2 separate regions of the Homo sapiens genome follow, and region 2 is linked to region 1. Evidence: fine-mapped expression QTL. A gene starts in region 1. The other region holds a variant in brackets. All regions are shown on one strand. Distances are from middle to middle.

Region 1 (16,052 bases):
CCAAAAACCCATCTGTACATCACCATCATCGAAGACCAAAAGTAGATAAAACCACAAAGATGGGGAAAAAACAGAGCAGAAAAAATGGAAACTCTAAAAAGCAGAGCGCCTCACCTCCTCCAAAGGAACGCAGTTCCTCACCAGCAACGGAACAAATGACTTTGACGAGCTGAGAGAAGGAGGCTTCAGACGATCAAATTACTCCGAGCTACGGGAGGACATTCAAACCAATGGCAAGGAAGTTGAAAACTTTGAAAAAAATTTAGAAGAATGTATAACTAGAATAACTAATACAGAGAAGTGCTTAAAGGAGCTGATGGAGCTGAAAACCAAGGCTCGAGAACTACGTGAAGAATGCAGAAGCCTCAGGAGCTGATGCGATCAACTGGAAGAAAGGGTATCAGTGATGGAAGATGAAATGAATGAAATGAAGAGAGAAGGGAAGTTTAGAGAAAAAAGAATAAAAAGAAATGAGCAAAGCCTCCAAGAAATATGCGACTATGTGAAAAAACCAAATCTACGTCTGATTGGTGTACCTGAAAGTGACGGGGAGAATGGAACCAAATTGGAAAACACTCTGCAGGATATTATCCAGGAGAACTTCCCCAATCTAGCAAGGCAGGCCAACGTTCAGATTCAGGAAATACAGAGAACGCCACAAAGATACTCCTCGAGAAGAGCAACTCCAAGACACATAATTGTCAGATTCACCAAAGTTGAAATGAAGGAAAAATGTTAAGGGCAGCCAGAGAGAAAGGTTGGGTTACCCTCAAAGGGAAGCCCATCAGACTAACAGCGGATCTCTCGGCAGAAACTCTACAAGCCAGAAGAGAGTGGGGGCCAATATTCAACATTCTTAAAGAAAAGAATTTTCAACCCAGAATTTCATATCCAGCCAAACTAAGCTTCATAAGTGAAGGAGAAATAAAATACTTTACAGACAAGCAAATGCTGAGAGATTTTCTCACCACCAGGCCTGCCCTAAAAGAGCTCCTGAAGGAAGCGCTAAACATGGAAAGGAACAACCGGTACCAGCTGCTGCAAAATCATGCCCAAAATGTAAAGACCATCGAGACTAGGAAGAAACTGCATGAACTATCGAGCAAAATAACCAGCTAACATCATAATGACAGGATCAAATTCACACATAACAATATTAACTTTAAATGTAAATGGACTAAATGCTCCAATTAAAAGACACAGACTGGCAAATTGGATAAAGAGTCAAGACCCATCAGTGTGCTGTATTCAGGAAACCCATCTCACATGCAGAGACACACATAGGCTCAAAATAAAAGTATGGAGGAAGATCTATCAAGCAAATGGAAAACAAAAAAAGGCAGGGGTTGCAATCCTAGGCTCTGATAAAACAGACTTTAAACCAACAAAGATCAAAAGAGACAAAGAAGGCCATTACATAATGGTAAAGGGATCAATTCAACAAGAAGAGCTGACTATCCTAAATATATATGCACCCAATACAGGAGCACCCAGATTCATAAAGCAAGTCCTGAGTGACCTACAAGGAGACTTAGACTCCCACACATTAATAATGGGAGACTTTAACACCCCACTGTCAACATTAGACAGATCAATGAGACAGAAAGTCAACAAGGATACCCAGGAATTGAACTCAGCTCTGCACCAACTGGACCTAATAGATATCTACAGAACTCTCCACCCCAAATCAACAGAATATACATTTTTTTCAGCACCACACCACACCTATTCCAAAATTGACCACATACTTGGAAGTAAAGCTCTCCTCAGCAAATGTAAAAGAACAGAAATTATAACAAACTATCTCTCAGACCACAGTGCAATCAAACTAGAACTCAGGATTAAGAATCTCACTTAAAACCGCTCAACTACATGGAAACTGAACAACCTGCTCTTGAATGACTACTGGGTACATAACGAAATGAAGGCAGAAATAAAGATGTTCTTTGAAACCAACGAGAACAAAGACACAACATACCAGAATCTCTGGGACGCATTCAAAGCAGTGTGTAGAGGGAAATTTATAGCACTAAATGCCCACAAGAGAAAGCAGGAAAGATCCAAAATTGAAACCCTAACATCACAATTAAAAGAACTAGAAAAGCAAGAGCAAACACATTCAAAAGCTAGCAGAAGGCAAGAAATAACTAAAATCAGAGCAGAACTGAAGGAAATAGAGACACAAAAAACCCTTCAAAAATTAATGAATCCAGGAGCTGGTTTTTTGAAAGGATCAACAAAATTGATAAACCGCTAGCAAGACTAATAAGAAAAAAAGAGAGAAGAATCAAATAGATGCAATAAAAAATGATAAAGGGGATATCACCACCGATCCCACAGAACTACAAACTACCATCAGAGAATACTACAAACACCTCTACGCAAATAAAACTAGAAAATCTAGAAGAAATGGATAAATTCCTCGACACATACACTCTCCCAAGACTAAACCAGGAAGAAGTTGAATCTCTGAATAGACCAATAACAGGAGCTGAAATTGTGGCAATAATCAATAGCTTACCAACCAAAAAGAGTCCAGGACCAGATGGATTCACAGCCAAATTCTACCAGAGGTACAAGGAGGAACTGGTACCATTCCTTCTGAAACTATTCCAATCAATAGAAAAAGAGGGAATCCTCCCTAACTCATTTTATGAGGCCAGCATCATCCTGATACCAAAGCCGGGCAGAGACACAACCAAAAAAGAGAATTTTAGACCAATATCCTTGATGAACATCGATGCAAAAATCCTCAGTAAAATACTGGCAAACCAAATCCAGCAGCACATCAAAAAGCTTATCCACCATGATCAAGTGGACTTCATCCCTGGGATGCAAGGCTGGTTCAATATACGCAAATCAATAAACGTAATCCAGCACATAAACAGAACCAAAGACAAAAACCACATGATTATCTCAATAGATGCAGAAAAGGCCTTTGACAAAATTCAACAAATCTTCATGCTAAAAACTCTCAATAAATTAGGTACTGATGGGACGTATTTCAAAATAATAAGAGCTATCTATGACAAACCCACAGCCAATATCATACTGAATGGGCAAAAACTGGAAGCATTTCCTTTGAAAACTGGCACAAGACAGGGATGCCCTCTCTCACCACTCCTATTCAACATAGTGTTGGAAGTTCTGGCCAGGGCAATCAGGCAGGAGAAGGAAATAAAGGGTATTCAATTAGGAAAAGAGGAAGTCAAATTGTCGCTGTTTGCAGGTGACATGATTGTATATCTAGAAAACCCCATTGTCTCAGCCCAAAATCTCCTTAAGCTGATAAGCAACTTCAGCAAAGTCTCAGGATACAAAATCAATGTACAAAAATCACAAGCATTCTCATACACCAACAACAGACAGAGAGCCAAATCATGAGTGAACTCCCATTCACAATTGCTTCAAAGAGAATAAAATACCTAGGAATACAACTTACAAGGGATGTGAAGGACCTCTTCAAGGAGAACTACAAACCACTGCTCAAGGAAATAAAAGAGGATACAAACAAATGGAAGAACACTCCATGCTCATGAGTAGGAAGAATCAATATTGTGAAAATGGCCATACTGCCCAAGGTAATTTATAGATTCAATGCCATCCCCATCAAGCTACCAATGACTTTCTTCACAGAATTGGAAAAAACTAAAGTTCATATGGAACCAAAAAAGAGCCTGCATCGCCAAGTCAATCCTAAGCCAAAAGAACAAAGCTGGAGGCGTCACACTACCTGACTTCAAACTATACTACAAGGCTACAGTAACCAAAACAGCATGGTACTGGTACCAAAACAGAGATATAGATCAATGGAACAGAACAGAGCCCTCAGAAATAACGCCGCATATCTACAACTATCTGATCTTTGACAAACCTGAGAAAAACAAGCAATGGGGAAAGGATTCCCTATTTAATAAATGGTGCTGGGAAAACGGGCTAGCCATATGTAGAAAGCTGAAACTGCATCCCTTCCTTACACCTTATACAAAAATCAATTCAAGGTGGATTAAAGACTTAAACGTTAGACCTAAAACCATAAAAACCCTAGAAGAAAACCTAGGCTTTACCATTCAGGACATAGGCATGGGCAAGGACTTCATGTCTAAAACACCAAAAGCAATGGCAACAAAAGCCAAAATTGACAAATGGGATCTAATTAAACTAAAGAGCTTCTGAACAGCAAAAGAAACTACCATCAGAGTGAACAGGCAACCTACAAAATGGGAGGAAATTTTCACAACCTACTCATCTGACAAGGGGCTAATATCCAGAATCTACAATGAACTCAAACAAATTTACAAGAAAAAAACAAACAACCCCATCAAAAAGTGGGCGAAGGACGTGAACAGACACTTCTCAAAAGAAGACATTTATGCAGCCAAAAAACACATGAAAAAATGCTCACCATCACTGGCCATCAGAGAAATGCAAATCAAAACCACAATGAGATACCATCTCACACCAGTTAGAATGGCAATCATTAAAAAGTCAGGAAACAACAGGTGCTGGAGAGGATGTGGAGAAATAGGAACACTTTTACACTGTTGGTGGGACTGTAAACTAGTTCAACCATTGTGGAATTCAGTGTGGCGATTCCTCAGGGCTCTAGAACTAGAAATACCATTTGACCCAGCCATCCCATTACTGGGTATATACCCAAAGGACTATAAATCATGCTGCTATAAAGACACATGCACACCTATGTTTATTGCGGCATTATTCACAATAGCAAAGACTTGGAACCTACCCAGATGTCCAACAATGATAGACTGGATTAAGAAAATGTGGCACATATACACCATGGAATACCATGCAACTATAAAAAATGATGAGTTCATGTCCTTTGTAGGGACATGGATGAAACTGGAAATCATCACTCTCAGTAAACTATCGCAAGAACAAAAAACCAAACTCTGCATATTCTCACTCATAGGTGGGAATTGAACAATGAGAACACATGGACACAGGAAGGGGAACATCACACTCTGGGGCCTGTTGTGGGTTGGGGGAAGTGGGGAGGGATAGCATTGGGAGATATACCTAATGCTAGATGACGAGTTAGTGGGTGCAGCACACCAGCATGGCACATGTATACATATGTAACTAACCTGCACATTGTGCACATGTACCCTAAAACTTAAAGTATAATAATAATAAAAAATTAAAAAAAGGAAAAAAAAAGAAAAGAGAAAAATACAAAGAGGAGGGGAACAAAACTCATAGATGAATATATCAAAATATTTATCCCAAGCTGATATACCTTGTAGATTGCCTTCAACTCTAGATCTCCTCCTCCTCCTTCTTCTTCTCCTCTTCCTCCTCCTCCTTCTCCCCCTCCTCCTTCTCCCTCCTCTTCCTCCTCCTCTCCTCCTCCTCCCCCTCCTCCTTCTCCTCCTCCCTCTCCTCCTCCTCCTTCTCCTTCCTCCTCCTCCTCCTCCTTCCGCCTCCTCGTCTCCTCCTCCTCTCCTCCTCCTTCTTCCTCTTCTTCTTTTCTTCCTCTTCCTCTCCTCCTCCTTCCTCTTTCCCTTCCCCTCCTCCCTCCTCTTCCTCCTTCCTCTTTCTTTTCCTCCCCCTCCCCCTTCTTCCTCTCCTTCTCCTTCTCCTTCTCCTCCTCCTCCTTCTTCTTCTTCTTTAAAAAAGAGATAGGGTCTTGATCTGTTGCCCAGGCTGAAGTGCAGTGGCACAAAGATAGCTCACCCTAACCTTGAATTCCTGGGCTAAAGTAATCCTCCCACCTCAGCCTCCTCAGTAGCTGGGACTACAGGCATGAGCCACCATGCCCAGCCCAAACCCCAGCTCTTCTGCTGAAAGCAAACTTGCCCCCCTAGGGTGCTAGAAGAGCTCAGGCAGGGTTGGCTGCCACCTTCTGAGGGACTGTATGTCTTACTTCTGTCTGTCTTCTCCACAGCCCTGTTGGTTACCTTTTCCTAGCTACTCCCATGGTTTTGGGAAGAACATTTGTCAGAATGGTGAAGGGAGGGCCCCTGGGGCTCATCCCAGTGGTCAGCATAGGCATCAAAGCAGATTACGGCAAGCCGTGGAATATGTACTAGTGGAGGAAACAAATGGTGCTGGGCAAATTAAGAAAGAAGGTATAGGCCGGGCGCCGTGGCTTATGCCTGTAATACCAGCACTTTGGGAAGTTGAGGCGGGTGGATCACTTGAGGCCAGGAGCTTGAGGCCAGCCTGGCCAACACAGTGAAACCTTACCTCTACTAAAAATGCAAAAAAAGAAAAAAAGAAAAAAAAAATTAGCCAGGCTTTGTGGCACACACCTGTAGTCCCAGCTACTTGGGAGGCTGAGGCATGAGAGTCACTTGAACCCGGGAGGCAGAGGCTAGAGTGAGCCAAGATCACCCCACTGTACTCCAGTCTGGGCGACAGAGCAAGACTCTGTCTCGAAAAAGAAAAGAAAAAACAAAAAGTCTCCAAAATAAATAAATAAATAAATAAATAAATAAATAAATAAATAAATAAGAAAGAAAGAAAGAAAAGGAAATAAAAAAGAAAGAGAGAAGGTATAAATTTCCAGGTGGGAAGTAACCAGGACAGGAAATCTTCATGGAGGAGGTGGCACTCGGTGTAAGGATTTAGAAGAGATAAGACGGAGGGAAGGCAGGAATGATGGTCTAATTGGGGAGCAGAGAGGGTGTACTTGGAGCATGTGCTTCAATAAGAAAAGTGTCTCAGTTTTTAAGCTAATGTTGACCTGGTAAAAAGATGTTTGAGGGAGTAGGGTAAAAGCAAGACTATAGTGTTATGGAGAAGGTGGCTGAAATCCTCAATAGTGTCACTGAGTGGTCCTAAGCAGGCTCTGGATCCAGGCTGCCAGGGTTCAAATCCTGGCTATGCTATGCAGCTGCTGCATGTTCTTCAGCAGGTTACAAAACCCCTCTGTCCCTTGAGTCCTCAGCTATGATGTGGAGACAATAATGTACTGGTGTCCAAAAGTGGCTATGAGGATAAGTTTAGAAGTTTAGAAGTATAAAGGGCTTAGATGAGTGCTCGGCACATAGTAATGCTCACTGTATGTTTAGCAATAATGGTGATGGTGATGGATAAGATAAAGATGGACGCCCCTCCCAACCAAACACCCGGGTGACCTCTGGTTCCGACCCCCTCCAGGCCCTCCTGCCCTGATGTTTGACCTCAGCTATGCCTCTGATTCCAGGTAGGGGAAGATGCTTATGCCCTTCCAGGTCTCAGGTTGCTTATTCTGTGACCATCTGACCCCTAGCAATGCTGTCTCAGCCCCTCCAGGCCAGGTCTGGGTGCCGTGGGCCCTGCTGATGAGGTGGTGTGTCATGCCTGGTCAGCAGGGCAGACCGAGGGGCAGAGCTGCTTTCCCCAGCAGGGGAATAGAGTTGCGCCTTGCCTCAACTCTGCCTCTCACTGGCCTCAGTTTTCTTCTTAGTGGACTCCTAGGACATCTACCCAGATGCCCGGACAGAGGCACAGGCTTGGCTCAGGTCTTCCAGCCAATGAATAGCCAAGGCCGGATTCACACTAGGACAGTCTGGCTTTTAACTGCTGCACTAAGAGTCACTGCAGTAGATCCAGACATCAAGGAAGGTTCCCAGAGTCCTGGTGCCTCTGTGCCCTTAGGCGGGTGAATACTGATGGGTGGAGACAGAATTGTTACAAATATATAATAAATAAGTTATAGTAAAGCAGAATTCAATCCGAAACTCAGAAGAAAAGCAGTCCCCTCCATTCTATTGCAAACCACCTCTAAACTTCGTGGCTTAAAACCACAAAACTCACATTTGCTCATGATTCTGCAACGTGGGCAGAGCTCGGCAGCGGCAGTTCATCTCTGTTCCACATGGCATCAGCTGAGGCTGCTCCACCGAGGCTGCAGGATCCAGTTCCAGAATGGCACACTCACGTCACTGGAAGTTGATGCTGGCTGGCAGCCAGGGCCTCCTCTTGGCCTCCTTACACAGTTAAGTTAAACTTCTGCAGCACAATAGTTGGGTTCCAAGTGGGAGCATCCCAGGAGGAAGCATCCCAGGCCAGGGGTAGGCACTTTTCAAGCCTCTGCTGGCATCTTCTTGCTAGAGCCCTATTGGCCAAAGCTTGTCAGCTGACCAAGCCCAGAGTCAGTGTGGGAGGAGACTACACACAGTGGTGAATACTGGGAGCTGTGGTTTACCGAAGTGTCTGTCTGTCTGAACTTCTTTTTCCTAAGGCTCGCTTTGGTGCTCCTCACATTCTCCCATCAGCCTCCTCTGAAACCTGGTTCCATCCAGTATCCTCTCTCTCACCTCGTCCATTGCTCCTTCTTCAACGAATCCCTCCTTTCAGCCAACAGACCCACTCAAGCCACAGCTATCCCCGAACAGCTCCGTTCAGCCCTGCGTCTCCCTCAGGGTGCCGTCCTGTCTCCCTCCATTCCTTTGCTTCCAAAACCCTTCAAATAGCTGCTGAATGCTGGAAGCAGAAAAAGTTCCCTAAAGCCAATTTGCTACATTTATGAAATATTCTAGGCTGGGCACTGTGTCTCACGCCTGTAATCCCAACACTTTGGGAGGCCAAGGCGGGCGGATCACAAGGTCAAGAGATCAAGACCACCCTGACCAACATGGTGAAACCCCGCCTCTCCTAAAAATACAAAAATTATCTGGGTGTGGTGGCACGCACCTGTAGTCCCAGCTTCTTGGGAGGCTGAGGCAGGAGAATCGCTTGAATCCAGGAGGCAGAGGTTGTAGTGAGCCAAGATCGTGCCACTGCACTCCAGCCCGGCAACAGAGCCAGACTCTGCCTCAAAAAAAAAAAAAAAAAAAAAGTGAAATATTCTGATTTGTCCATTCTAAAGAATTTTTTCTTTAATGTTTTCAATGAATACGAATATATACTGTTAATGAATGCATTAGTAAATATATTCAAGAATATACTCTTATGAATATAAATAAAAATCTATTGATAAGAAGTCTAAACTACTCGATGACTCTTAGGTTCCAGCAAGCCCATAGTCTGTGAATAGATTCACAAGTGGAATATATTCATATTCACTGAGAAAAACTTTCTTCAAAATTTTTGACAAATTTGCCAAAATTGGCACACATCTCTTAATTAAAAAATTTCATCCCTCCTTTCTTCCATCCATTCATCCATCCAACGGATATTTATTTGAATGCCATGACATGCTCAGCACTGGGGCATAGTGTGGTTGAACACAGACCCAGCCCCGGCCCTCATAGAGTTTACAGTCTAGTAGGGGAGACAGTTACTCATTAAGTGATCATTTCAAACAAACCCTGAAACTGGCCGGGTGCCATGACTCATGCCTGTAATCCCAGCACTTTTGGAGGCCAAGATGAGAGGATCACTTGAGGTCAGGAGTTCGAGACCAGCCTGGCCAACACGGTGAAACCCCGTCTCTACTAAAAATACAAAAATCAGCTGGGTGTGGTGGCGGGTGCCTGTAATCCCAGCTACTCCGGAGGCTGAGGCAGGAAAACTGCTTGAACCCAGGAGGTGGAAGTTGCAGCGAGCTGAGATCGCGCCACTGCACTCCAGCCTGGGTGACAGAGTGAGACTCTGTCTCAATTAAAAAAAAAAAAAGAACACTGAAATTGCAATCTTGACCAGTGCTACCATACCTTTTCCAGCTCATGACACGCCCTTTGGCACGCACTGCTTTGGAATTTTGATCATACTGCTCCCTTTGCTGGCAATGCTCTTTCCCGCTTTCCCTGCTTGGCATATGCAGCTTAATTTTAAGACCCCAGTCAACAGCGCTCACTGTGGCTCTGGCTCCTATCCCCAGGAAAGATGAACTGCTCCATTATTTATGTTCTAGCAGCACTTGGCATAAACTTCTAGCAGTGAACATATCAAACCATAATATATTATATCTGTGTCTCTTCTATTAGATCGTAAGTGCAATAGGGTCAAGAATTCTGTCTTCAGAGGCTTGGGTGGAGTGAGTGTGCATGTTTAAAAAGAGAGAAGTTTACAAAAATGTTTAAAAAGAAAGAAGTCGGGGGGTGGGGGGCGGGTGGGCAGGCGCAGTGGCTCACGCCTGTAATCCCAGCACTTTGGGAGGCAGAGGGGGCCAGATAGCTTGAGCTGAGTTTAAGACCAGCCTGGGCAACATGGTGAAATCCCATCTCTACAAAAACATACAAAAAAAAAAAAAAAAAATTAGCTGGCTGTGATGGCAAGCACCTGTAGTCCCAGCTACTCAGGAAGCAAAGGTGGGAGGATTGCTTGAGCCTGGGAGGTCGAGGCTGCAGTGAGCTGTGATCGCCCTTTGCACTCCAGCCTGGGAGACAGAGTGAGACCCTGCCTCAGAAAAAAAGGTATCCTTACCTGACATGGAAAAATTCCTCTGGGCACCCATTAGGGGACAGACACCTCCATTTACACTCATCCTTTTAAAGCCTCTTATAATTTGACCCACAATATAGACATCAAAAATAAGCTTGAGGGAGGCCCAGCAGCCATGGTGGCAGACAGGGCTGGCAGGTAAGGCTCTGGTGGCCACTGACTTGAGGGAGAGCAGCCTGCTGACCTCAGCCAGGGCTGCAGCAGTGGGGCCAGTGCCAGACAAGGTGCTCCAAGGGGCTAGGACCAAGTGCAGTCATCTTTGCCTCTCTGGCATCTAGCAGCATTGACTAGATGCTCACACACTCGAGAAATACGTGTTAAGTGAACGGTCCCTGTGACAATCAAGCAGACTTTTTTCTTTCCGATGACACACCTCCTCTGGCCGCCACTGTCACCCTGCAGAGCAGAATCACTCTTCTGCGGGGAAGCTGGAAGGGAAACAGGCCAGGACAGCCTGGGTGAAGCAGGACTGTGTTTTGATGAGCTGAGCAAGCCTGGGTGCGGGACCCTGAGGTTACGTAGCAGACCAGGGACCCCAAGGAAGACTGCATGGATTTTGTGGGCAAAATCAGTCCATTTCAGAAATAGTTGGTGGTTTAATTGAGCCTGTGGACCAACTTGCAAAAGCAGCAGAAAATGAGAAGAGGAAGGTAGTTGGTGCTTGGAACTTGCTCCAATTTATGGCAAAACACAGAGAAGCCCAACAGCAACAACTTCTAGCACAAACAGCAGAAGAGAAAATGTGGCTAAAAAGGTGGTGGATTGAATATGAAGCCTCGTGGAAAGTAGATGCACAGAAGGAAACACATTTATTGGCCAGTTTATTTTCAGATGTGACTAACGACCTGAGTATGTCGTGTGAGATGCAGTGTGAGGAATACAGCCTTTCTGAAGGTGATAATACAAATCTGGAGGGGGCTTGTTTTAAACTTTAGCGCATATCTGCTGGGGAACATTGGTGCCATGTAGCCGGCAGCCACGGCAGTACAGGTACTCATCTCTGGCATTCTTAGTCTGAACTGAACAGTCTGTAAACGTTGATCTTTTTGTTTTTTTGTTTTTGTTTTTGTTTTTTTTCTGTAAATTCACAAAGACTTGGAAGGAAGAGCAATAAATTATTGTTTTCCAAACAAATAAACTTGAGAGAAAAATAATCCTTTTTCTCTCTTTTTTTTTTGAGACGGAGTCTCGCTCTGTCGCCCAGGTTGGAGTGCAATGGCGCAATCTTGGCTCAGTGCAACCTCTGCCTCCCGAGTTCAAGTGATTCTCCTGCCTCAGCCTCCTGAGTAGCTGGGATTACAGGTGCCCACCACTATGCCCGGCTAATTTTTGTATTTTTAGTAGAGATGGGGTTTCACCATGTTAGGCTGGTCTCGAACTCCTGACCTCAGGTGATCCGCCTGCCTCGGCCTCCCAAAGTGCTGGGATTACATGCATGAGCCACTGTGCCCGGCTGAGAGAAAAATAATACTTTTATGTATATGCTTTTATAGGCACAAGATATCTCTAGAAATATCCATGAGGAACTCTCATATTTCATCAGATCTAAGATGCCCTCAATTATAAGATATACCATTGTTGCATGCACAAGAAAGAAAAAAGACTGCTAAACGGAGAGGCAAAAGATTCAGAATAGCCAACACAATGTTGAAGAAGAAGAAGAAGTCGGAGGACTGATACTACCCAACTTCAAGGCTTACTATAAAGCCACGGTAATCAAGAGACTGTGATATTGATAAAAGAATAGGCAAATAGATGAATAGAACAGAATAGAGAGCCCAGAAACAGACCCACATAGCTATACTCAACTGATGTTTGATAAAGGAGCAAGGATAATACAATGGAAAAAAAGACAGTATTTTCAACAAATGGTCCTGGAACAACTGGACATCCATATGCAAATAAAAAAAAAAAGAATTCAGACACAGACCTTGCACCCTTCATAAAAATGAAGTCGAAATGGCTCACAGACCTATATGTAAAGCACTAAACTATAAAACTTCTAGAAGACAACAAAGGAGGAAATCTGGATGATGTTGCGTATGGACATGACTTTTTTGATGCAACACCACAGGCATTAACCATGAAAGAAATCATTGATAAATTGGACTTCAATAAATTAGAGAAACTTCTGCTCTGTGAAAAACACTGTCAAGAGAATTAGAAGACAAGCCACCAACTGGGAAAAAGTATTTGGAAAAGACACCTGATAAAAGATTGTTATCCAAAATATACAAAGAACTGTTAAAGCTCAACAATAAGAAAATGAACAACCCAGCTGAAAAATGGACAAGCGACTGGAACAGACACCTCACCAAAGATTTTACAAATGAAGTAAGCATGTGAAAAGATGCTCCACATCATGTGTCATCAGGGAACTTCAAATTAGATCAACAATGCGAGGACCCAAACACGTGTGTTGCTCCACATCCTCACCAGCATTTAGTGTTGTCAGTGTTCTGGATTTGGGTCATCTCATTGAATCAGTGTGAATGAATGAACTCTCATTCATTGCTGATGGGAACGCAAAATGCTACAGGTTCTTCAGGCTCTTTGGAAGACAATTTGATGGTTTCTTTTCTTTTTTTTTTTTTTTTTTTTTGAGACAGGGGCTTGCCCTGTCACCCAGGCTGGAGTGCAGTGGCAAGATCACGGCTAACTGCAGTCTCTAACTCCTGGGCTCAAACAATCCTCCCACCTCAGCCTCCTGAATAGCTGGGACTACAGGCATGTGCTACCATACCAGGCTAATTTCTAAAACAAAAATTTTGTAGAGACAGAGTCTTCCTATGTTGCCCAGGCTGGTCTCAGACTCCTGGACTCGTGATCTTCCTACCTTGGACTTCCAAAGTGTTGAGATTGTAGGCATGAGTCACCACTCCCAGCCTAATTTGGCGGTTTCTTACAAAACTAAATATACTTTTACCATATGAACTAGCAATTGTGCTGCTTGGTATTGACCCAAATGAATTAAAAACTGGTGTCCACACAGAAATCTGCCCATGGATGTTTATAATCAGCTTTATTTATAATCATCAAAATGTGGAAGCAAGCAAGATGTCCTTCAGTAGGTGAATGTGTAAATAAACTATAGGTACTTCCAGACAATGGAATATTATTCAGCACTAAAAGAAATGGGCTTTGGGTGATAATAATGTGTCAATGTAGGTTCATTGATTATAACAAATTTACCTCTCTGTTGCAGAATGTTGATAGTGGGGGAGGCTGTGTATGTGTAGGGCCAGGGAGTGTATGAGAACGCTCTGTACTTCTAAATTTTGCTGTGAACTAAAACTGCTCTAAAAGATAAAGTCTATTTAAAAAAAGACTGCCAGTTAACTATATGACATGATGCCATAACGACAGCCTTGCATGACACATGATTGATCACACCAGCCCTTCATGGCTTTGAAATTTCTTGCATCTATTCTGAGAGATCTGGCAATTTCCCCAGTCTTAAATTGCATTGTCTGGCATGAATTTGAGTAGGTAACATTCCTTTTTCTCTTTTGGGTATCTTCCACTTTGGGGTCCTCAAATGGACCAAGCATGCATCAGCAGCATCAATATCACCAGAGGGCTTGTTAGAAACGTGGAATCTGAGGCCAGACGCCGTGGCTCACACCTGTAATCCCAGCACTTTGGGAGGCGGAGGTGGGCAGATCATGAGGTCAGGAGTTCGAGACCAGCCTGGCCAACATGGTGAAACCCTGTCTCTACTAAAAGTACAAAAAATTAGCCAGGCGTGGGGGTATGTGCCTGTAGTCCCAGCTACTTGGGAAGCTGAGGCAGGAGAATCGCTTGAACCCGGGAGGCTGAGGTTGCAGTTAGCAGAGATCGCACCATTGCACTCCAGCCTGGGTGACAGAGCAAGACTCCATCTCAAAAAAAAAAAAAAAAAAAAAAAAAGAAATGTGGAATCTGACCCATGCCAGACTTAGTGAATCAAAATCTGTGTTTTATCCAGATCCCAGCGGATTTGTGTGCACATTGCAGTCAGAGAGGTACTGCTGCTGAAAACCTCTCAATGGTTGCTCTGCAAGAAAATATGGAATGGAAATCATTACTCTAACAATTCATAAATTCGCTTCACTAATATCAATTTTGCACCTCACTGTTGTTTCTGTAACTTTCTGCATCCACAGTGACCTTTCATTTAAATGCTGATAGTACCGTCTTTTTGAAGATATTTTAAATAGCAAGTAAAGTCAGCGCATGTAGCGTCAACAATGCACATAAATCATTTGAAATGATGACAATACCAAAGCTATAGCCAAGTTTGCTCAAGTGCAGGCAATGGTATCAATGTGATGAGAGCCACCTAGCTGACAGCTATTGTAAGACACATCCTGATTTCAGAGATGTTAAAATGTGAAAAAACATGTATATCTTAGAAGTCAATGAAATATGGTAACAAAATAGGCTGCTTCTGGGGTAGGAACTGGATGGCTAGAGAATAAATGGGAGGGAGATATTTCATTGTATCTTCTATTTTGTAATCCCAGGACCCAAACCCCAAATCTCTGAATCACTTGTGTACTACTCAGTGATAGTAGACACTGTTTTTAATGTAATTTAAGATTGACTTGGCTTGGTGGTGGCTTATATCTGTAATCCCAGCACTTTGGGAAGCCAAGGCGGGTAGATCACCTGAGGTCAGGAGTTCAAGACCACCTTGGCCAACATGGTGAAACCCTATCTCTATTAAAAATACAAAAATTAGCCAGGCATGGTGGCGGGCACCTGTAATCCTAGCTATTCGGGAGGCTGAGGCAGGAGAATTGCTTGAACCCAGGAGGTGGAGGTTGCAGTGAGCTGAGAACGTGTCATCATATTACAGCCTGGGTGACAAGAGCGAGACTCTGTCTCAAATTAAAAAAAAAAAAATTGCCTTGGCTTGGCTGGGTGCAGTGGCTCATGTCTGTAGTCCCAGCACTTTGGAGGCCAAGGCAGGAGGATCACTTGACCCCAGAAGTTCGAGGAAACATGGCAAAACCCCATCTCTACAAAAAATTTAAAAGCTAGCCAGGCATGGTGGTGCTTGCCAGTGGTTCCAGCTACTCAGGAGGCTGAGGACGGGAGATGGCTGGAGCCTGGGAGGTCTAGGCTTCAGTGAGCTATGATCACACCACTGCATTCCAGCCTGGGCAACAGAGCAAGACCCTGTCTCAAAAAAAAAAAAAAAAAAAAAAAAAGACTGACTTGCCTTTTTGGAAGGCTCTATGTTTCAAGGTTATAGTAAAAAACAAAAGAAAACAAAAATCTCTAAAACTTCGGAGCCTTTTCCACAAATACTATTAAATGACTTATGCTCCTCATTTGTAACTGTTTTTTTTTTTTCTTATTTGGGTGTGAAGGGATGGGTGGAGATGATGGGAAGGCTTACATTTATCCCTGTTGAATAAGAGGCTGTTGGAGTCAGCCCACAGGTCTAAAACTTTGATTTTCAAATTCTAGTGTGCATCAGAGCCACCTGGAGGGCTTACTAAAACACAGATTTCTGCTGGGCGCGGTGGCTCATGCCTTAATCCCAGTATTTTGGGAGGCTGAGGTGGGTGGATCACTTGAGGTCAGGAGTTCGAGACCAGCGTGGTCAACATGTCGAAACCCCGTCTCTACTAAAAATACAAAAATTAACCGGGCATGGTGGCGGGCATCTGTAGCCCCAGCTACTCAAGAGACTGAGGCAAGAGAATTGCTTGAACTGGGGTGCAGAG
Region 2 (16,052 bases), 31 kb before region 1:
GTGGCCCCCTTATCTCAGGATGACAATCCGGCTTTATGAGCAGAGTGCTGGGCAGAGCAGTAGCTTTTGCTCTTCTGCTCTTGCCTTTCCTGTAAAGAATCTCTGCCCCATGAGCAAGCTGAGGCCAGGGTAACACAGGCTCCAGTATTCTCAGCCTGCCATGGCCGAGGTGGAGTTTCTGCCCTATGATTGGGGGCTAGGTTTACGAAGTGAGCCCCAGATTTATCAGCCAGTCTTGTCCAAAGTAGAGCTTTTGCAGCATGAAGCTGGAGGGTATGAGAAATGCTGGCAGCCGCCCTCCCAGCGAGATATAGTAGCCCTCAACTGAGAGCTGGGGAAAGAGGTAGCCCGTGTTCTCGGCTTCACCTACTTAGAGTAACTTTTCCATCATGCTGAGCTAGAAGAAGGAGGGAGGAAGTCTTTTGTGGTACAAATGTTATTGACTCTCACTGTTCTTACTGAGACTTAGTACATTTTCTTGAATAAAAGTTTATTAATTTGCCGCATCCCCATAAAACAATTTCCAAAGGCTTTAAATAGTTGTGGCTTTGATCTTAAGCAATTTCCAGAGATTATGGTCATTTCACTGGGGAGAGGGTTCATGGAGCTCCTCATGCTGCCATTCAGAAGTCATGGAAACCAAAATGTGTCTGAGACAGATCTCTATCCATGTAGAGGTTTATTTTGCCATGTAGAGGTTTATTTTGCCATGTAGAGGTTTATTTTGCCATGTAGAAGTTTGTTTTATTTCTTCTTCTGGGAGAAAGAAACACAAGTAACCATAGTTCTTCTGGGAGAAAGAAACACAAGTTACCATAGGATCTGTGGCCTGTGCTTTTTCCAAAAAGGGTTTTTCAGGACTTTAGAGAGGAAAGGAAAAAAAGAAGGAAGGGTAAGCAATGAGACAGGAGATTACTTTCCTATGCGGCTTTGATTAGCACTCGCTGAATCTACATTTTACATGTGAAAGGGGCGGGTAGAGGAACAGTCAATTATGTTAGTTTTCTTGCTTGGTAAATCTACATTTTACATAAAATATGTAAACACAGAGTAGAGGAAGAAATCTAATATGCATTTGTCTTGGGTGGGCAGAGGAATTATTTCTAGTCTGGTCTTTGTCTCATACCTGTGAAGATAAGATGTTAATCTACATAGTTGGCCAGGCACAGTGACTCATGCCTGTAATCCCAGCACTTTGGGAGGCTGAGGCAGGTGGATCACTTGAGGTCAGGAGTTCGAGATGAGCCTGGGCAACATGGTGAAATGCCCATGTCTATTAAAAGTACAAAAAATTAGCCAGGCTTGGTGGCAGGCACCTGGAGTCCCAGTTATTCAGGAGGCTGAGACAGGAGAATTGCTTGAATCTGGGAGGCAGAGGTTGTAGTGAGCCAAGATCGTGCCACTGCACTCCAGCCTGGATGACAAGACTCTGTCTCACAAGAAAAAAAAAAAGAAAAAAAAAAAGCCTACATTGTCAGGGTGAGATTCAACAGAACTGTGTTTTAGGGGTAGTTCATCAGGAGGATATGTATTCTGAAAGATTTGGGACCCACAAAAAATTTCCTTGTAAGCAATTGTGAGGAAGGCCACCTGGGGAGATAGATGGCCTTCCGTTATCACATACTCATTCCTAACTAAGTACCCAGAGAAAAACATGGACAATAACGTTCATAATAGCGCCATTTGTAATAGCTTAAGGTTGTAAACAGTCCAAATATCCAAATGCAACGATCTGTTTAGGAGCAAAAGGAAGGCAGTTTTTGTGTGACTCAGTTTCCAAGCTTAATTTTTCCCTTTGACATAGTGAGTTTGGGGTCCCAAGGCTTTATTTTCTTTTCACAGTTATATGCCCTATCATGATGATTTATTATGAAGCCATATTTTAGTCCAATTAATCTGGAGGCAATGTTCAGAGAAAATTAGAAATAGGAGAGGTTGGAGCCAGGTAGAAGAGATAACAGGTTATTGCATTAGTTTCAATGTAAGTTGTTAAGGGCCTGAACTAGACAGTGGAAGTAAAAAGAAAAGAATAACAGTGATGTGAGCATAGATTCTTCAGGACTTCCCCACAGATTAAATATGGGGTGCAAGAAAGAGAGAAGGGTCAGAGATGATCCCAAGGTGGTTCTAATATGGGAGAGAAAGGTAAATTTACTTTAGATCTGTTGAGATTTTGGTGACACATATATTCAAGGGAAAGGGAAAATATGACATCATTACTAGAAAGGGAGCATTGGTAAGCAGGGGAGAGGCTGAGTTTTGTAGACAAGGGGATTTGGAGTCATAGTTTCTAGGTAACACGTTGCAAAAGCTGTCCACAGTACAAGATAATGGAAGTCATAGGCATAGACAAGTTTCAGAGAGAAAGAAAAGCAGACCAGGTTAACTTGAACTTGGGAGAATGAAACTTGGCAGGAGGAGAAAAACAGTGAAGGAGCTTGAGAAGTTACCACCACAAAGGGAGGAAGGGTTGACAGCTAACATTTATAAAACCCTTACTAAGAGACAAGCACGATTCTAAGAGTTTTAGATTTTTTTAAATATTTAATCCTCCCAATAACTCCACAGGGTGAATATGATTATGCCTGTTTTACAGATTAAGAAACTGAGGCCAGAGAGGTAAAATAATGTGCTTGAGGTCACAAAAGTGATATTAAGTAAACCCAAAATTAAAACCTTGGCAACATGAGCATGCATAATTCTCATTCTTAAGTATGTACCCAAAGAAACACACGGACAATAACATTCACAATAGCACCATTCGTAATAGCTTAAGATTGTAAACTGTCCAAATGTCCATCAACACTAGAATGGATAAACAGATTGTAGAACATTCATATTCAATGGAATACTATGCAGCATTGGGAATGAACAAATCATTACGATAAGCATGCCACCAGCATAAAGGTGAGTGAAAGAAGCCAGTCATCCAAGAAATGTATGCTATGATTTTATTTATATAAAGTTCAAAAAGAGGTAACACATGGCTGTGGTGTGAAAAAGTCACCTGACCTTTGTGAGGTGGTAGAGACTGGGAAAGGGCCTGAGAGGGGGTTCTTGGGTGCCAGTGATGCCCTGTTCCTGAGCTGGGTGGTGGTTACACAGGTGTGTTCACTTATGAAAATTCATCAAGCTGCTCACTTATGATTCATGTACTTTTCTGTGTGTAGGTAACAAACAAAAAGTACTAAAAAACAAGAAAGCAAAATAGAACCAGGGCATCTGATTTGAGGACCTACCCCCTTAACCACAGAGTGATCCAGAGAACAAGGGTCTTTTCTCCTCTTCCACAAAGAAAAATGTGGAAGGGGACCTTATAAAATTATAAATTTAAAAGAAATTGAAGAGATAGATCAACCAAATGGAATGTATGGGTCTTATTAGCATCCAAATGAAAACAAACCGTAGCTGGGTATTATGGATCATGCCTGTAATCCTAGCACTTTGGAAGGCTGGGGCAAGTGGATCACTTGAGCCCAGGAGTTTGAGACTGGCCTGGGCAACATGGTGAGACCTCATCTCTACAAAAATACAAAAAAGTAGCTGGACATGGTGGCATGCACCTGTAGTCCCAGCTACTTGGGAGGCTGAGGTGGGAAGATCACCTGAGCCCAGGAGGTAGAGGCTGCAATGGGTCATGATCGCACCACTGCACTCCAGCCTGGGTAACAGAGCAAGATCCTGTCTCAAAAAGAAACGAAACAAAACAAAACAAAAATTAAACTGTAAAAGACAATAACAAAACAATTGGGGAATGAATATTAATTATATTATGATTATGTTTTATAAAAAGTCCTTCTATTTCAGAGATACATATTGACATACTGATGGATGAAAGAATGTCTGGCATTTGCTCCACAAGAATGAGGATACGAGTGTTGAGATGAAAGATTGGCCATGGATTGATCATTGCTGAAGGTGGATGATATCTACCTGGACTTCACTGTACTTTGTCTATTTGTTTGAGTATTTTGTGAAATAAGAAGTTTTTGCAAAAGAGAAGAAGAAAACTAACGTTCAGTGTGTTCGCAAAGGAACTGATTCCCTTGGCTCCATATTTTTAAATTTGGATCTCCTTTGAGAGAGAAAGAGAGCAAGCACATGGGTCACAGGACTAAAGGAGAAAGGGGACGTGTGGGTGGAGCATGAGCTTGCGATGCCTGCTCCTGTGGTTTTCTCTCTTCCTCTACTCCTCCACTGGAACAGTTCTGGCAAAGGCCACTGTGACCCCCACTCACTGCTGCATCCAGCAGTTGGCTTTCAGTTCTTCTTTACTTGACATCTTGGTAGCTTGGGACTCTGGTGGCCAGGCCCCCTGCTTGGGAAGCACCTCTGGTTTTCCTTTGTCCATTTCACAGCCTGCCCCATGGACTCTTCTTCCTGTGCCTGATTCTTCAGTCCTGGGCCTGTCCTCAGCCTGCTGCTCTTCTTCCCCATACCCTCTTCCCTGGTGGTTCTGTCCTCTCCCAGCGCTTGAGTTGCTGCCAGGGCTGTCTTTCTAAACAGCAGTTCTCACCAACTGATTCCCTTGTGAAGACCCAGGAATAGCTTCCCATTGCCCAAATGATAACATTCAAACTCTTCCTGGAGGTACAGGAGGCCCTTCAGCATCTTTTTTCGCCTCCACTTCCTTTCTACCTTCCCTCTCTAGCCTTCCCTCCTTCTCCTCCCCTTCACACCCTCCGAGTCAGCCAGTGACATTATCAACACTTCTGGAATGCACCAGGCCGTTCCTTGCTCCCATACCTTTGACTCGATCTGGACTACTCACCCACACACTTCCCTACCTGGAAAACTCTACTCACCCTTTGAGACTCTGCTGCAAGCTCACTCCATCCATAAAGGCTTTCCTCATCTTCCTGTGGAGTTCATTCATCCATTCAATCATCCATTCCTAATAGATGTAGATGCAAAGACCTATGATAAGGCTGAGTGCTGGGGGCCAGAACCCACATCATTCACACTTTACCTCACAGTTCCTATCTCAGGTATTGCCTTACTTACATGATAGCTGCTCCCAAGCCCTACCCCTTGAGGCCAAGGAGGGTGACTTATTCCTCTTTGTACCCAAGTGATAGTAGGCACTAAAACACGCTTGTTCAATTGAATTGAAAGAGAAGAATTACCGAGAAAAGGCCTCTGGGTTTGGCCATTCAAACACTTTTGATAAACTTTGGGTGTCTCTGTACTAAAGTTTAGGGTTGGGGGTGAAGGGAATGAGGCTTTTTCTCCTGAGGGTTAAGGAGAAGCCAGGAATTGGTACCGCTGTAGGCCACTTGCTTGAGAAATGTTATCAGTGATATGAGGCAGGAAACAGGATGACAGCAAGATTGAGTGATGGCGGAGTTCAGCATATTTTAAAAGACAGATAGGGAAGAGCTAGTGGAAGTAGACTTGAGACGCTGGTGAGAGGCAATGTTCCAGAAGAAAATGACAAAGCAAGCTAGGTTCTTTTCTTTGTTGGGGAGGGGTTGGAGACAGGTGAACCTCATACAGGCCTGGGGGCAGCTCTTCCTCTAAGATGGAAGGGAAGGCTAGAAAGTGGAGGAGTCATAGCAGCCACTTCGGGTGCCTGCCTTATGCCAGACTCTTTCATTTCCATTACACTTAATCCTCAGTCTTCATTTTCAGATAAGGAGAATGGCTCAGTGTTTCAGTGGTTTTCCACCTGGTGACACATTAGAATCCCCTGAGGAATTTGTTAAAACAGTGCATCTGGGTCTCACTCCCAGCTTTCCTGATTTAATTTGATCTGGGAAAGAACACTGGCATCAGAATTGTTTAAGATCTTCAGGTGACTCTTTTTTTTTTTTTCAGATGGAGTTTCGCTCTTGCCCCCCAGGCTGGATGCAGTGTCATGATCTCTGCTCACTGCAACCTCCACCGCCCGGGTTCAAGCCATTCTTCTGCCTCAGCCTCCGGAGTAGCTGGGATTACAGGAGCACGCCATCACGCCCTGATAATTTTTGTGTATTTTTAGTAGAGACTGGGTTTCCCCATGTTGGTCAGGCTGGTCTTGAACTCTTGACCTTAGGTGATCCACCTACCTCGGCCTCCCAAAGTGCTGGGATTACAGGCGTGAGCCACCATGCCCGGCCCAGGTGACTCTTATGTACAGAGTGGAGAACCAATGTAAGAAATCTGTCAGAGGTGACCCGCTTGCTGGGATGGAATTTAATTCAGGTCCGCCAATCCCAAAGCCCTTTCTCTTTCTCCTAGCACTGTGATTCTGAGTGTGGGTCCCACAGCAGCAGCATCGGAAACACCTGGGAGCTTTTCTAACAAAAAGAGTAGTTCTAATCTACTAAGTAAAAAACGCTGGGGTGGGGCCAGCAATGCGGTTTAATAAGCCCTCCAGGTGGTTCAAGTTTGAGACCCACCGCTCTGAAATCTTGCTACTCAGTGTGATCCACAGATGTGTAGGATCGATATCATGATATTAGAAATGCAGAACCTCAGGTCCCCCAAGACCTGCTGAATCAGAATTTGTGTTTGGCAAGATCCCGAGATGCTTCGCATGGTTAGAGTTTGAGAAGTAGTGCGTGAGGCCACTAGTTTCCAAACCTGGCCAATGATCAGAATTAACACACTTTTTAAAAGAAAACTACAGATTCCCTGTAATCCCAGCACTTTGGGAGGCCGAGGAGGGTGGATCACCTGAGGTCAGGAGTTCGAGACCAGCCTGGCCAACATTGTGACATTCTGTCTCTACTAAAAATACAAAAAAATTACCAGGCATGGTCGTGGGCACCTGTAATCCTAGCTACTTGGGAGGCTGAGGCAGGAGAATCGCTTGAACCTAGGAGGCGGAAGTTGCAGTGAGCCAAGATCGTACCACTGCACTCCAGCCTGGGCAACAGAGCAAGACTGTCTCAAAAACTACAGATTCCCCAGATATTCCACACAAGTTTCTAGCTAATCAGGTCTGAGCTCACACCTAGGTCCCTTTTTTAAAGCTCCCCATAAATCTGATGATAGATTAAGTTTAGCATTGCTCCACAATGCTGCTCTCTGTAGAAGTGGGAATTTTCTGAGTATATTCTTTGTCCCAGGCCCCTCAAAAAGTGCTTTCCTCACAACTAGGCTTGCTAGATTTAGCAAATGAAAATACAGAATGCCTAGTTAAATTTGAATTTCAGATAAAGAGCAAATACTTTTTTAGTATAAGTATGTCTCAAATATTGTGTGGGCTATACTTATAAAATTATTTTAAGTAGTGAAAACAGGTTTAGCAAACTTACTAGTTAAAAATTAAATTTTATTAATATGATCAATTTAAATTTAGGAAAAGTTTCTAAAATTATGTATTGTTTATCTGAATTTCAAATTTAGCTGAGCATTTTGTATTTTACTTGGCAGCTCTACTCACAAAAGTACTGAAGTTCCAAGGAGAAGCTTGGCATAACCATATTGAGGGCAAGAAGAGGCAGAACTTGTCAGACATCAATAAGAAATGGATGAATGGGTGAATACCAAAGATATCATGTAGAGCTGCCTCAGTCAGCTTAGGCTAAGTTATCCTGCAGTAACAAATGACCTTCTCAACTCAGTGGCTAAATAAACCCCAAACTTAACTTTCCCTTCCCTCCCCTCCCCTCTCCTTTTCTTCCCTCCCCTTCCCCTTCCTCTCCCCCTCCTGCTCATCCTTCCCCTTCCCCTCCCCCTCCTGCTCATCCTTCCCCTTCCCCTTCTCCTTCCCCTCCTTTCCTCTTTTGAGACCGAGTCTTGCTCTGTCACCCAGGCTGGAGAGCAGTGGCACAATCTCAGCTAACTGCAACTTCTGCCTCCTGGGTTCAAGTGATTCTTGTGCCTCAGACTCCCGAGTAGCTGGGACTACAGGCCCCCACCACCATGCCTGGCTAATTTTTGTATTTTTAGTAGAGACAGGGTTTCGCCATGTTGGTCAGGCTGGTCTCAAAATCCTGACCTCAAGTGATGCACCTGCCTCGGTCTCCCAGAGTTCTGGGATTACAGGCATGAGCCACTGCACCTGGCCCAAACATTTGTTTCTTATTTGCATTACATATCCATCGAGGTCAGCTATCTTCCTCCTCATTCTGTGACCAAGGCTCATAGGAGGTTTCTAACGGAGACATTTTTGTTCTCCTCAAAAAGGAAAAAAATAAAAGTGTGACATGACTCTTA[C/A]AGCTTGGGTGACCAGCTATCCCAGTTTGCCCAGGACTGGGGGTTTCCTGGGACACAACACTTTAGTGTTAAAACCAGAATAGTCTTCGTCTTCAGGTAACTGAGGTTGGTCACCCTACAATAAAGCTTCTACCCGAAAGTGGCATGCACCACTTCCATTGGCCAAAAAAGTCATATGACCAAGTTTGTCATCAGGGAGTGAGCATTATAATCGTCCAGTATTGAGGGACCCTGTAGGATAAACATACCCAATAGCAATAACTTAAGCATACCCTTAGAATGACCCTGTATGGCAGACGCACCTGAGTGTGTGCTCTGAGCTAGGGAATCTGGGAGTGGCCAACCCAGAGATTCCTTCCTGTCTATGAGGAACATGTGAGCTCCACCCCACTCCCTTCCTGTCTGGTGGAATGTGGGCCGTATAAGGGATGGAGGCCATTTGTTTTAGGTTAAATGCAGGTTACCAGGTGAAGGTTGTTAAGGGGAGGGTTTTAAGTGAAAATACTGTATAAACTGCATGCTGTTTGCAAGTGGTTGCGTTTTTCCTGTCCAGTCTGCCACTGCTGGAGACTCTCCCCTGTATGTAAGCCCCAAATAAAACCCTATGTCTTTTTTTTTCTTTTGAGACGGGGTTTTGCTCTTGTTGCCCAGGCTGGAATGCAAAGGCACAATCTTGGCTCACTGCAACCTCCACCTCCCGGGTTCAAGCGGTTCTCCTGCCTCAGCCTCCCAAGTAGCTGGGATTATAGGCGCTTGACACCATGCCCAGCTAATTTTTTATATTTTTAGTAGAGATGGGGTTTCACCATGTTGGCCAGGCTGGTCTTGAACTCCTGACCTCAGGTGATCCACTCGCCTTGGCCTCCCAAAGTGCTGGGATCACAGGTGTGAGCCACCGTGCCCGGCCAAAACCCCATGTCTTATTTGCTACCTTTGGGTCTCTTCTTTGACCTCTTGAACCTGGTGCCTTCCCTACTGAGGTTAATTAGGGTTCAGCAAAACAGACCCATGGAGAGGAGCAATGAGTATTTAATAATGCAGTCTACCACAGAGAGCAAGCGGGGGGCACACTTCAGGAAGGCACACGCCTTCATTAGGAGGAAAATAGAAAAGGAAGGCCCTTCCGGACGGCAGAGCCAAAGGCCATGAAAGAGAATGGCATGAGGAACCCCCTTCCTCCAGGGGCAGGACTAAGACCTAATCTAGAAATATTCCCTATCCCCAGGATAGGGGGCCCCTTATGATGTCAGCCCAGTGGAATTTCAAGATGTCCATAGATCAATGATTACCCATATCTGCTGTCCACATGCTATTCTAGAGGCTTGCCCACTCCCTCATGCCTTGAACCTGTAAACACTGTGTAACCTTGACCAATATCATGTCTCTCATTCTTTCCTTTCTAAATAATGTTAGAAATGCAGAACCTCAGGCCTTCCCCCAGATCTGCTGAGTGTTTATTGAGATTACCCCATCCCTGTTCTTCTTTGGCCCATGGGGTATGTGGAGGGCTGATAACTAGACTTCTTAGTTCCGCATCTCCAGACCAAGAGGAAACCACATCCAGACCCAATGTAGGAACTACCATGAGATCTTGGACTTAATGTCTGATGCTTGTATTAGGGATGCAAATAATTGTGACAAGGAGGGATACTACGGTAGCTTGTGATACTATTTCAAAATATCTGTTGCCCCTCTAGGAGTGTTCCTTCCAGGTCGCTTTCTACATAGGGATTATATTTGTAACCCACTGAACTTAGGCTTAGCCATGTGACTTGCTTTGGCCAATAGAATGGGAGCAGAATGAACACATGTCACTTCTGAGGAGGAGTTTGAAGAAAAATCACATGGCTCACCATTGTCTCTTTTTCTTCTGCCTGGAGACTAGTAATGTTCCAGATAGAGCCTGCTCCTTCAGCCTGGATCCCAGAGCAGAGTTACAGCCAATCCACAACATCTGTATAGTATAAGTGAGAAATAACTGGAGTTATAAGCCACTGAGATTTTGGTGATGTTTGTTACCACAACACAACCAAGCCTACCCTTTCTTCATGATACAAGAGTAAATAGCAGGGCATGGTGGCTCATGCCTATAATCCCAGCACTTTGGGAGGTCGAGGCAGGTGGATCACTTGAGGCCAGGAGTTCAAGACTAACCTGGCCAACATGGTGAAACCCTGTCTCTACTAAAAATACAAAAATTAGCCATGCATGGTGGTACGCACCTGTAATCCCAGCTACTTGGGAGGCTGAGGCAGGAGAATCACTTGAACCTGGGAGGCAGAGGTTGCAGTAAGCTGAGATCATGCCACTGCACTCCAGCCTGGGTGACAGAGCAAGATTCCATCTCAAAAAAAAAAAAAAAAAAAAAAAGAGTAAATGAACAAGATGACAGGAGAATGCTTCTGTGTGATTCCATTTTTACAAAGTTTGCAAGCAGGCAAAACTAAACAATATATTATTTAGGAAAAAACCTGGAGTGGCAAAATTATAAAGAAAGCAAGAACATGAGTAACACAAAACTCACAAGGGTGGTTACTTTCGATCGAGGGTCAGAGAAACACAATTGGAGAGTTCTAAACTACTAAATTATATTTACTGTCTTGTGTGTGAATTTTACAACTTAAAGAAAAAGATTATGCCTGTAATCCCAGTTACTTGGAAGGCTGAAGTGGGAGAATCATTTGAGGCCAGGAGTTTGAGGCCAGCCTTGGAAAAATAGTGAGACCTCATCTTTAAAAAAATTTACTTAATTAGCCAGGCGTGGTTGTGCATGCCTATAGTTCCAGTTGCTCTAGAGACTGAGACAGGAGGATTGCTTGTGAGCCCAGGAGTTTGAGGCTGCAGTGAGCTATGATTGTGCCACTGTGCTCCAGCCTGGGCAACAGAGAGAGATCCTATCTCTTTAAAAAAAAAAAAAAAAAAGAAAAGAAAAGAAAAGAAAAAAAGAGCTTGCCAGACTGTTTTCCAAGTGACATACCAATATCTTCTGTCCATGTGCTGTTCTAGAAGCTTGCCTTTGGGAGGCTGAGGTGAGTGGATCACAAGGTCAGGAGTTCAAGACCAGCCTGGCCAATATGGTGAAACCCCATTTCTACTAAAAATACAAAAATTAGCAGGGTGTGGTGGCATGCGCCTGTAGTCCCAGCTACTCAGGAGGCTGAGGCAGGAGAATCACTTGAACCCGGGAGGTGGAGGTTGCAGTGAGCTAAGATCTAGTCACTGCACTCCAGCCTGGGCAACAGAGAGAGACTCCCTCTTGACAAAAAAAAAAAAAAAAAAAAAAAAAAAAAGAGGAAGCTTGCCCACTTCCTCATGCCTTGAACCTGGGAAAACTCTGTAACCTTGACCAATATCATATGATGCCATATGGTGCTCTGTGACTTCTGAGGCCAGGTCATAAAAATGCCATGCACTTGTGCTTTGCTTTCTCGGGACACCTTCCCTTGGACCCCAGTTACCAGCTAGTCTGATGAAGCCCAGCTAGCCCGTGTGGAGAGAACACATGGAGGGACCACGTGTAGGTGTTTGGGCTGAAAGCCCAGCTGAGGTTCCAGCCAAACCACCAGACATGTGGGTGAAGACGCCTCCGGATGACTCTAGCCCCCAATTGTTGAGTCATTCTCAGCTTTCAAGTCTTTCCAGCTGAGGTCTCAGACACCAGGGAGCAGAGGCTAGCCACCCCTGCTAGTTGCTGTCTAATTTCCTGACTCAAAGACTCTGTATGCAAAATAAAATGGTTGTTTTGTGCTACTTACATTAGGGGTGGTTTGTTATGTAGCAGTACATAACTGAAATCATTTATACATGCACACACACAGAGTTTGTGTGTGTGTGTGTGTGTGTGTGTGCACGCGCACATGTGTGTATGTATAAGAATTTCTCCCTTGGGCCCTATAAAAATAACATTAGATGGTTAGTTGCCCACAGAATGCTCTGTGGGAGACCCTGAGGGGTAGAAGTCCTGTAGGGGAGAAAAACAGAAAAAGACTATGAAGTCTAGGGTTTGGTCTTTGAGAAAGAAATTCTCCCTTCTTCTATGGTAAAGAAGAGGAAGGTGATTCAGTATTTGTGGCCAGAGAGTCCCACTAGACCGTTTCTTTCATGTGATCATTCACTGGTTTATTGAAGAATGAGTTCATTCATTACACAGTGGCTGATCATCTACAGGCATCAGGCTGTGAGTGGAGACCCCAATGTGTCATGGTACCTACCTCAAGGTTTGGACTCTCAGAGCCCAGAAGGAAAAGATGGAGAACAAGTGAATAGAGTTTGCTCCACAGAGTGTTAGGATAGTAGCAGGCAGGAGGTGCTGTAGAACTCCAGCCAGGTCTCACAGAAGACATCTGGGGTGTTCGAGAAAAGCTGAGTATTGGGAAAAAGGCTGAGGCAGGGCTTGCATGGCTGACATAATGTAAAACAGTCTTGGAACATGCCTGGGGTCCAGGGTCTAAAACCCCTCATGGCCTTTGGAACACCAAGCTCTGTGCCAAAGGGTGGAAACCTGCCCTGCCACACCACAATCTAAGCCCAGGGCATAAAACCCCTTGTGGCTTGGACAGAATCCAGGGCTCAGGGCTTAAAACTCCTTGTGGCCTCTGGAATGTGTCTAGACTTGCTGGCTTCTTGCTTCTAGCACTCCCAGGCTATTAGATCGATTGTAACTTAAACTAGAAGAACATGTTTCCCATTATCTCAAGTAGCAGAACATGTTCCATATGCTTCAAAGAAAATGCTAAACTGTCACAGTTGTAGATCATGTGCTTGATACACTGCTTTCTTTCAACCCCCACATCCTCACCACCTGCTTCTTTGTTTGATCACCAATAAATAGTGTGGGCTTCCAGAGCTCCGGGCCTTAGCAGCCTCCATACTAGCATTGGCCCCCTGATCCCACTTTATGCACTCTTGTCTTGTCTCATTCCTTTAACTCCACTGGACTTCGTAGCCCCCATGGCCTGGTGTTGGGTCTGATCACCCCAACATGGGGCCCCACCATCAATTCACATCTCCTTCCTCAACTGTATAGAATCTGGAGCAGAAAGAGCTGTGAATCTCAAGACTTTCTGCCGCTTGTTTATTCAGAGTCCAAACTCCCTAAGTATGGTGACCTCACAAGTATCCAGACACATTTTCCAGACTTCATGGCATCTGGAGAAAGGACGACTAACACAGCTGTGCCATGCCACTGTGCAATCAGGCACTCAGCTGCAGACACCAAAGGGAACTGTTTCACTACAGCTTGACTTGGCCTCTTGGCTGGCCCGTGGCTCTCTTGGCCTGCCGCAACAGGTACCCTTCACTGAAAAGGTATCTTGCTGAGCACAGGTTTCTGCCCAGCCCTCCTGCTGTGGCTTAAGACCTCCAGCACCTCCTATTTACTTGTGTGAGCAGGCAGCCATGTTCCTCCAGGCCTTGGGAAGGAAATATGATAGGAGAATGCCTTGGTGACAAGGATGCCCAAGGTATTGGGTTGAATTGTGTCCCCCCAAAATATATGTTCAAGTCCTAACCCCTGGTATCTGTGAATGTGACCTTATTTGGAAATAGGGTCTTTTGCAGATGTAATCAAGTTAAGATGAGGTCATACTGGATTAAGGTAGGCCCTAAGGCCAAAGACTGGTATCTTTATAAGAGAAAGGAGGAGGAGATTTGAATACGGAGAGATACACAGGGAAGAGGGCCAAGTGCAGATGCTGGAATGATGCATCTACAAACCAATACCACTAAGGATTGCCAGCAACTACCTGAAGAGAGGAGAGAGGCAAGAAAGGGATCCTCCTTCATACCCCTCAGAAGGAACCATGATTTTGAACTTCTAGCCTCCAGAACTGTGAGAGAACAAATTTCCGTTGTTTTAAGCCCCCAGGTTTGTGGTACTTTGTTACAGCAGATCTAGGAAACTCAGGGAAAAAATCCTAAATATTGCATAGCTTTCTCTTTCCAAAGAGAGGATATAGAGGAATGGTCACAAACACAAACATTTTAGTGATGCACACACCTGGTCCAAACTCTGAATCAATCATTCACTCGTTAATGTCTTTGGATGCATGATTGAACCCGAGTTTCCTTATGTGCAAAAGTAATAAAATGTACTCTTCAGATAATGTATGTAAAGTGCCAGGAACATAGCAGGTATTATGTAAATGGTAGATAATACCAGTATACTAGCCTCAGATTCCATTCTCTGCAATTACCAAGGAAGTCTTCCTTTTCCCTGGGATCCTGCATTAGGACAGAAGCAAGCAGAGTGCTGTTATTTCTATATCATGGGGGGCTTCTGGAAGGAAAGAGTTAGCACATGCTTGAAGATAACCAAAGCTAGAGTCTGTATAGACATAAGGAGGGTGAGGCAAAGTGGGGAAGCTAAAACTTCTCTGGAAAATTGTGGAAAAGCCTATATTCATTTGAAATACAAGGGATATTAGTCAATTATGCTGCATTTAGTGAAATGCCTCCTTCATGTGCATTAAAACAATGTAATGTCTAAGATCATTGTTTGTTCTTAGGAAGGGAGTGTTTGGCATTAATTTTACCCAAGAGTAAGCTACAGACTGTCAGGAAAAGAAACAAGAGGCCCTCAGGAGGAAGAGGAGGCATATCATACACCAGAGGTCAGGACCTCCCAAGTGGTGAGACTGGGGATGCCCAAGTCTGCCCTGGACAATTCTGTTGAAGCCTCCTAATATGGTGTTATTCTACACCCTTAATTAACATTTCTGGAAAATGTGCTATGGACAATGATTCTAAATGAGTTTGCCATAACGGGTGGATGGGAGTAGAGGCAGAGGTGGAGGGGTATTCTAAACTGATAACAACCTAGTAGGAAGGAGGATTTCCTTGAAGGAGGAGGTGGAGAATCACACCAATGATGGAGGAGGGGCTCTCTGAGCTGGAAATAACTGGATGCATTGAGTCTGGAAAGGAAGGCCAGGATCCAAGATGCCCATAGCACCCATGTTTTTTCTTTTATCCAGTAGACTTACATTTAGGCTGTATATTTTTGGGGAGGAATGTACATACTCATATGATAAAATTACAGAGAAAAGCATGGGAATGGTTAACACAAAAATCAGAATAGTGATCCCTCTCGGGGGATGAGAGGGCAATGAGATGGGGCAGGGCCTGCAGGTGCTTCTGAGGTTCTGAGAATACTCTATTTCTTCAGCTGGGAGTAGGATACAGACTGTTCATTTTGTTAGCATTCTTGAAGCTTAACATATACATTATATGCTCTCCTGTGTGATATGTTTCTCAATACAAATTGGAAAGATTGTTCATCACTGAAAAGTCTATTAAGCAAAAAAACTGTAAATAATCAAGTGTTCATTGTTAGCAATCTAGTTAAATAACTTATAAAATATCTGTTGAGCAATATACCAAATAGTCATTAAAAATAATAATTTAATTTTACTTTGTTGACATGAAATGATGTCTAGAATATATTAAGTGGAAAAAGCAGCCTAAAGAACTATTTGTACCAAGTGTCCATCAACAGATAAATATAAGAACACAATGTTGGCCGGGCGCGATAGCTCACTCCTGTAATCCCAGCACTTTGGGAGGCCGAGGTGGGCGGATCACAAGGTCAGGAGATCGAGACCATCCTGGCTAACACGGTGAAACCCCGTCTCTACTAAAAATACAAAAAATACAAAAAATTAGCCGGGCGTGGTAGCACATGTCTGTAGTCCCAGCTACTCAGGAGGCTGAGGCAGGAGAATCGCTTAAACCCGGGAGGCAGAGGTTGCAGTGAGCAGAGATCGCACCACTGCACTCCAGCCTGGGCAACAGAATGAGACTCCGTGTAAAAAAAAAAAAAAAAAAAGGACACAATGTTATATATAAATACATACAAAGAAAGGAAATTCTGACACATGCTATAACATGGATGAAGCTTAAAGGCATTA

Alleles and levels. Positions count from the first base shown, and alleles are read on the strand shown. Sizes are in standard deviations (SD) of each study's normalised expression.
In carriers of allele A in region 2, the expression in aorta of the gene that starts at base 8,067 in region 1 tends to be lower than with C alone (small effect, 0.38 SD a copy in GTEx).

Evidence for each region.
Region 2: its variant is fine-mapped to the expression of CARMAL in aorta (GTEx, PIP above 0.99).

Annotation. Positions count from the first base shown.
Region 1 is chr15:89,033,013-89,049,064 of GRCh38, reverse strand. It overlaps CARMAL (coronary artery disease region linked MFGE8 regulatory lncRNA), which reads right to left and starts at 8,067. Exons shown (of 4, transcript NR_183882.1): 1 at 7,765-8,067. It also overlaps a transcript of ABHD2 not described here. RefSeq lists an enhancer at 1-85.
Region 2 is chr15:89,064,138-89,080,189 of GRCh38, reverse strand. CARMAL (coronary artery disease region linked MFGE8 regulatory lncRNA) reads right to left here. Exons shown (of 4, transcript NR_183882.1): 2 at 9,999-10,099; 3 at 4,806-4,894. It also overlaps a transcript of ABHD2 not described here. Among named protein-coding and RNA genes, the nearest start is that of ABHD2, 16 kb to the left of the region's middle. RefSeq lists enhancers at 11,808-11,857, 11,908-11,957. The variant C/A (reference allele first, on the strand shown) is at 8,146.